Homo sapiens: one gene and its partner. The protein of the gene in region 1 purifies or fractionates together with the protein of each later gene. This does not show direct contact. Each region holds a gene or a part of one and is shown in the gene's direction. Other genes may lie near its edges.

The links. The genes of interacting proteins can lie anywhere in the genome.
Region 2: the proteins of REST (region 1) and HDAC5 purify together in Homo sapiens (affinity purification with western blotting; 2 studies listed by BioGRID, with this or other methods). This does not show direct contact.

What each region holds. Positions count from the first base shown.
Region 1 is NC_000004.12:56,914,400-56,917,899, forward strand, and holds part of REST (RE1-silencing transcription factor), read left to right. Parts: intron 1-3,500. UniProt on the Homo sapiens protein: Transcriptional repressor which binds neuron-restrictive silencer element (NRSE) and represses neuronal gene transcription in non-neuronal cells.
Region 2 is NC_000017.11:44,085,642-44,089,141, reverse strand, and holds part of HDAC5 (histone deacetylase 5), read left to right. Parts: intron 1-543; coding exon 544-755; intron 756-1,445; coding exon 1,446-1,730; intron 1,731-2,404; coding exon 2,405-2,570; intron 2,571-3,500. UniProt on the Homo sapiens protein: Responsible for the deacetylation of lysine residues on the N-terminal part of the core histones (H2A, H2B, H3 and H4).

The sequences.
Region 1 (3,500 bases):
TTAAAATTTAGTCCAGTAAAAGAATTTGTAGTCCCTTTGGAATTTGTCATAAGCTGTGATTGATTGTCTCGATGCTTTGAAACCATTCGATTTCAGAAGTAAAGGTCAAGCATTACAAAAATACATAAAGTAGGAAATGAAAGTTACTTGGGGACACAACCCCATTAATCACTTGACAGTTTGAATTAGACAGACTGTTAGACTAAACCAGCCTTACCTACAATATCTTAAATCCCAGCCATCATATATACTAAACTCATAAATAAGTACACCATATTCATTTAGCTGGGATTACAGGTGCCTTCCACCATGCCCGGCTAATTTTTGTATTTTCAGTAGAGATGTGGTTTCACCGTGTTGGCCAGGCTAGTCTTGAACTCCTGACCTCAGGTCGTCTGCCCACCTCAGCCTCCTGAAGTGCTGGGATTACAGGCCTGAGCCACCAAGCCTGGCCTGGTTTATTTGGTCTTAATGCTTATTTTTCCCCAGTATTACCTTCATTCTGATTTTTTTTTTTTTTAACTTTTTTTTTTTTTTTTTTTTTGAGACAGTTTTACTCTTGTCGCCCAGGGTGGAGTGCAATGGTGCAATCTCGGCTCACTGCAACCTCCGCCTCCCAGGTACAAGCAATTATCCTGCCTCAGCCTCCTGAGTAGCTGGGATTCCAGGCATGCGCCACCACACCTGCTAATTTTGTATTTTTAGTAGAGACAAGGTTTCTCCATGTTGGGCAGGCTGGTCTCGAACTCCCGGCCTCAAGTGATCCACCCGCCGCGGCCTCCCAAAGATTACAGGCGTGAGCCACCACGCCTGGCCAATTTTGTGTGTGTGTGTGTGTGTATTTTTTTTTTTTTTTTTTTTTTTGAGATGGAGTCTTGCTCTGTTGCTCAGGCTGGAGTGCAATGGCGTGATCTCTGTTCACTGCAACCTCTGCCTCCAGGGCTTAAGTGATTCTCCTGCCTCAGCCTCCCGAGGAGCTGGGATTACAGGTGCGTGCCACCACGCCCAGCTAATTTTTTAAAAAATTTTTAGTAGAGACAGCGTTTCACCATGTTGGCCAGGCTGGTCTCGACCTCCTGACCTTGTGATCAGCTGACCTCGGCCTCTCAAGGTGCTGGAATTACAAGCGTGAGCCACCAAACCTGGCCTTTATTACATTTTAAAACAATTTGGTGATGTATAGATTGAAGGTTAATATTTTGATTATGTAAATTCTGAAAGTATCTCTGGTATTAAATGGATAGTTCTGAAAATTATGGAAAATAAACTCATCTGGTGCGGAAGAGTAGAGACAGAAAAGACAGGAATCACTTAAATTGATAGTGTTCAGGAATTACTTCTCATTTCCACTTGCATTAGTAAGTAGCCCAGTTTTCTGATTGGCTTAGTGGGCTTAATTGTGTTTCTTGTGCCCTTCTATTCTGTGCTAATCTTCAGAACAATCCATTGAGGAAAATAGCATCTGTGATGATAGTTCATGTTTACACAGGGGAAAACTTCAGATTTAAAAGGCTGAAGTGATGTTCCCAAGGTCATATACAAGTATCATTTATAGCCGTTCCACGATGGCTCACGCCTGTAATCCTAGCACTTTGGGAGGATGAGGCAGGAGAATCGCTTGAACCTGGGAGGTGGAGGTTGCAGTGAGTCGAGATTGTGCAACTGCACTCCAGCCTGGGGGACAGAGTGAGACTCTGTCTCAAAAACAAACTACAAGTAGCATTTAAAGTTCAGCAATCTCGACTCACTGCAACCTCCACCAAAAGGGTGGGGGGAGCTGGGGACTTTCATTCTGGTTGACCTCTTTAGTTTAGTGGTTTTGATATTTAACTTGTTCACAAAATCTACTTTTAAAGAAAACCTTTTTGCCTGTATGTGTAACTGAAAAATCAGTAGGTAACTAAGCTTTCTGGAGGAGAGTTATGCCTAGTTTGTGGAATTACACAGATAAAGTAATCTGTTGTAAAGAATTTAAAAGCAGGCTGGGCGAGATGGCTCATGCCTGTAATCCCAGCACCTTGGGAGGCAGGCAGATCACCTGAGGTTGGGAGTTTGAGACCAGCCTGGTCAGCATGGTGAAACCCTGTCTCTACTAAAAATACAACACTTAGCCTGTAGTCCCAGCTTCTCGGGAGGCTGAGGCAGGAGAATCACTTGAACCCAAGAGGCAGAGGTTGCAGTGAGCCAAAATCGCGCCACTGCACTCCAGCCTGGGCGACAGAGCGAGACTGCGTCTCAAAAAAAAATAATAATAAAATAAAAGAATTTAAAAGTAAATTATCTTTGATTCTTCAAGTTTATCTGCAGTGGTATTTAATTTTTTATTGAGATACAGTTTACATATGCAGTTCACTATATATTGGCCTGTTCTGAATATTTCACACAAGTGGAATCATAATAAGCAGTCTGAATAATGCTGCTATGAATATTCATGTTTAAGTTTTGTGTGGACGTATGTTTTTGTTTCTTTTGGATATATACCTAAGCGTGAGATTGTGGGGCAGTATAGTAGCAACATTTTGGGTAATTGCCAAACTGTTTTCCAAATTAGCCATGCCATTTTACAATCCCACCAGCAATGTGTGAGGGTTCCAATTTCAGCACATCCTTAGCAATAATACTGTTAACATCTGTCTTTGTGATTACAGCTATCTTAGTGGATATGAAGTCTTCATCTCCTTGTGGTTTTGATTTGCATTTCCCTCACTGCTAATGATAATGTTCATCTTTTCATGTGTTTATTGGCTATTTGTAAATCTTTTTTTTACAGAATTCCATTAACATAAAACTATCTTAATTGTTCCAGGTCATAAGGTAGGCATTCTGTTGCTACCAACTCTTTACAGCTAATTCGTAGCTACCAGCGAATTACAGCAGAATAGTTATGAGGAACACATTTCCCATCTATCACCATTCTTTTTGTTGTTGTTTGTTTTTTGTTTTAAGACAGGGTCTCGCTCTGTTGCCCTGTGTGGAGTGCAGTGGTGTGGTCACGGCTCACTGAAGCCTCGGCCTTCTGGGCTCAAATGATCCGCCTACCTCCCAAAGTGCTGGGATTACAGGCATGAGCCACCATGCCTGGCCTGTTCTTTTTTCTGTGTACCACCTTTTCCTTATTTTATTAGACACATTTGTTTCTGTCTTAGACAAAATTGATAGCTTACATTTATTGAGGGCTTTACTATGTGCCAGACACAGTGTTAAATGCTCTGCATGTATTATTTAAGCTTTTGCAATTACAGGAAATGAAGATTCTGTTACTTTTACAGATGGGGAAACGGTGTTTTAGTAGCTTTACCAAGGTCATAATTATCTTGTGTTTGGAGACTATATTAAAACAAATTGTATACCTTTTTTTAAAAGCTTGTTTTGCCGGGTGTGGCGGCTCATGCCTGTAATCCCAGCACTTTGGGAGGCCGAGGTGAGTGGATCACGAGGTCAGGAGATCGAGACCATCCTGGCTAACAAGGTGAAACCCCGTCTCTGCTAAAAATACCAAA
Region 2 (3,500 bases), on another chromosome or scaffold:
AGACAGGTTGTGTGCAAGGGCTCAGCAGTCACATGTAACTAGTAGCTATGGGACTAGACAGCACAACTTTAGACAGCCCTTAAGTACCAGGGCTGTCTAAAGAGCCCTGGCACCAGAAGAGGTTCTGCTTGAAAGATACATGATCCTGGCCCTAGGGCTTCCTAGCCTGGCGGGATCCACGGGGAGGATCCATGATCAGGGAGGCCTTGTTGCACTTAGGGAGAAAAGTCATTGTTCGTTCAGAGGGCTCAAGACTAAATGTATACTCAGTTTATTCAGTTAAGGAAATCGAAGGGAAAAGATGGTGAATCCAGGAAGGCTTGCTGGAGGTGGTACCTTAGAGCTGTGAAACTCTTCATTCATGGGGAAGAGGAAGAATGGAGCTCAGGTTTGGGTGGGGGGTGCTTCAGGTCCCCCAGGGTTTTTCCTGAGTATATAGGTGGTGATATGCCAGAGGGGGTTGTGGGGGCAAGATGCAGGGTCGGTGGGAGGGCAGTCAGGTGCCCTGACAATGGTGCTTAGTCATCACCCCCAACTCCGTAGTGCCACTCCACGGGCAGTCCCCACTAGTGACGGGTGAACGTGTGGCCACCAGCATGCGGACGGTAGGCAAGCTCCCGCGGCATCGGCCCCTGAGCCGCACTCAGTCCTCACCGCTGCCGCAGAGTCCCCAGGCCCTGCAGCAGCTGGTCATGCAACAACAGCACCAGCAGTTCCTGGAGAAGCAGAAGCAGCAGCAGCTACAGCTGGGCAAGGTGAGCCTGGAAAGGTGAATGGCCTGGGGCTGTGGTGGGGGCAGGACACAGGAGAGTACCAGGCTGGCAGAAAAGTCCTCCTTTCAGGCCAGACACGGTGGCTCGCGCCTGATTGGGAGGCCGAGGTGGGCAGATCGCCTGAGGTCAGGAGTTCGAGACCAGCCTGGCCAACATGGTGAAACCCCCGTCTCTACTAAAAATACAAAAATTAGCCAGGCGTGGTGGTAGGCACCTATAATAATCCCAGCTACTCGGGAGGCTGAGGCAGGAGAATTGCTTGAACCTGGGAGATGGAGGTTGCACTGAGCCCAGATCGCACCATTGCACTGCAGCCTGGGTGAGAAGAGCGAGACCGTCTCAAAAAAACAAACAAAAATTAGCTGGGCGTGGTGGCGTGCGCCTGTAACCCCAGTCACTGGGGAGGCTGAGGCAGGAGAATCGCTTGAATTTGGAAGGCGGAGGTTGCAGTGAGCCGAGATCGTGCCACTGCATGCCAGGCTGGGCGACAGAGGGAGACTCTGTCTCAAAAAAAAAAAAAGTCCTCTCAGAGGAGCTACCTCACCTTTTTCTAATTCACATAGAAGCTCTACCTGGAAGAAGGGAGGGAGGGAAGGATAGACTGTTCTGGGTTTTAGGCTGCACAGCTGCTCCCCAACTCCCAGCTGATGTGCCCCCATATTCTGTTATCAGATCCTCACCAAGACAGGGGAGCTGCCCAGGCAGCCCACCACCCACCCTGAGGAGACAGAGGAGGAGCTGACGGAGCAGCAGGAGGTCTTGCTGGGGGAGGGAGCCCTGACCATGCCCCGGGAGGGCTCCACAGAGAGTGAGAGCACACAGGAAGACCTGGAGGAGGAGGACGAGGAAGACGATGGGGAGGAGGAGGAGGATTGCATCCAGGTTAAGGACGAGGAGGGCGAGAGTGGTGCTGAGGAGGGGCCCGACTTGGAGGAGCCTGGTGCTGGATACAAAAAAGTGAGCCCCGTCCCTGGTCCCAGTCCTTGGTCACCACCCCTCTGTCCTTCTCCACCCCTGCCTCTGCCCTTGTCTTTCCCTCTCCCCCATCTGCAGTTTCCAGGCTGTGCAGGAGCAGCTTTCTGTAGAGAGCAAAAGGGGAGTGGGAAGGAGGCCGGTGGGGAGAAGGGGGAGCTGTTTGTGTTGATCTCAGAGTTGTGTCTGTCCTAGGCTGCCAGTTCCCTCCCTGTGTCTGTGATACTGGCCTGCCTCTCTGCTTGTGTGTCTGTGTATGCATGCGTCGGTCCCTGTGCGTGCCTGTGCGTGTGTGTACACACACGCCCCCGCTGTTACTACTGTCTGCCTCGCGCCTAGCTGGCACTCCATTCATTGCGGACACAGCCGAGCCCTCCGGGCCTGACTCATCCCGCCCCCACCCCGCCCCCGCCCCCACCCCTCCCAGCCTCTTACCTCAATGCTACTCTTTGATGTGACTCATCACATCTCCCCCATCCCTCCCCATCTCAGAGGAGATGTGTCTCCTGTCCCTGGAGGGAGCAAGTGGGAGGAGGTGGGGGAAGGAGACTTGGAAGAAAAGGGCTGGATTGGGGCCCCACTGGAGGCCCTGACAGGGCCTGCCCTCACCCCTGTCCTGGCTGAGTCTGACCCAGGCCCCCTCCCATTCTCCCCTCCAGCTGTTCTCAGATGCCCAGCCGCTGCAGCCTTTGCAGGTGTACCAGGCGCCCCTCAGCCTGGCCACTGTGCCCCACCAGGCCCTGGGCCGTACCCAGTCCTCCCCTGCTGCCCCTGGGGGCATGAAGAGCCCCCCAGACCAGCCCGTCAAGCACCTCTTCACCACAGGTGAGCCCCCACCAACTGTTAGGTCCTTCTGCCAGGCACCAGAGGGCCTGTGTGTGGTGTCTGCCCCATGGCAGGGGGAAGAGGCTGCTGGGGCCCCTTAGGCACCCTGAAAGGAGGGGACACAGGCCTTCGTTCTCTCCCTGTACCCCAGAGCTGTTCATGGTAGCGGCAGGGCCTTCTGCCTCAGCCGGGAGAGTGGGTAGCGTCTTTCTCACCCCGCTGAAGGAAGGACTGCCCCACAGCCTGAAGTGCTGGGTAGAGAGAGCCTGCTGTCCCTGTTGGGCCCTGACCTTCTACCTTCCCTTCCTTCTCCCTGTGAGGTCTGGGATGAGACCAGAGTCCTCTTCCCTATGAAGCTGCCACAGGCTGGGCTCTGGGGGGACACAGACGTGCCTGAGGGTGGCCCTGTATCACCCGTGGAGAGTAAGACACGGGTTTGGCAGGAGGGGGAAAGCAGGAGGTGCCGTGAGAAGGGTGCAGCTGAGGAGGCACAGCTGGCAGAGATGAGACTCATGCGAGTGTCCAGGGCAGCCTTGCTGGGGCTTGAGGAGCAGGGAAGCTTCTGATAGGCAATAATGGAGCAAAGGAATTTCAGGAGGAGTCAAGAGGGGGCAAAGGCTGGAGAGGAAAGGCCAGGTGCAGTGGCTCACACCTGTAATCCCAGCATTTTGGGAGGCCAAGGTGGGAGGATCACTTGAGCCCAGGAGTTTGAGACCAACGTGAGCAACATAGTGAGACCCCGTCTCTTTAAAATAAAAAATAAAAAAATAGGTTGGGTGCAGTGGCTCACGCCTGTAATCCCAGCACTTTAGGAGGCTGAGGTGGGTGGATTACCTGAGGTCAGGAGTTCGAGACCAGCCTGGCCAACATGGTAAAACCCCGTCTCTACTAAAAATACAAAAATTAGCCAGGCGTGGTGGCACATGCCTG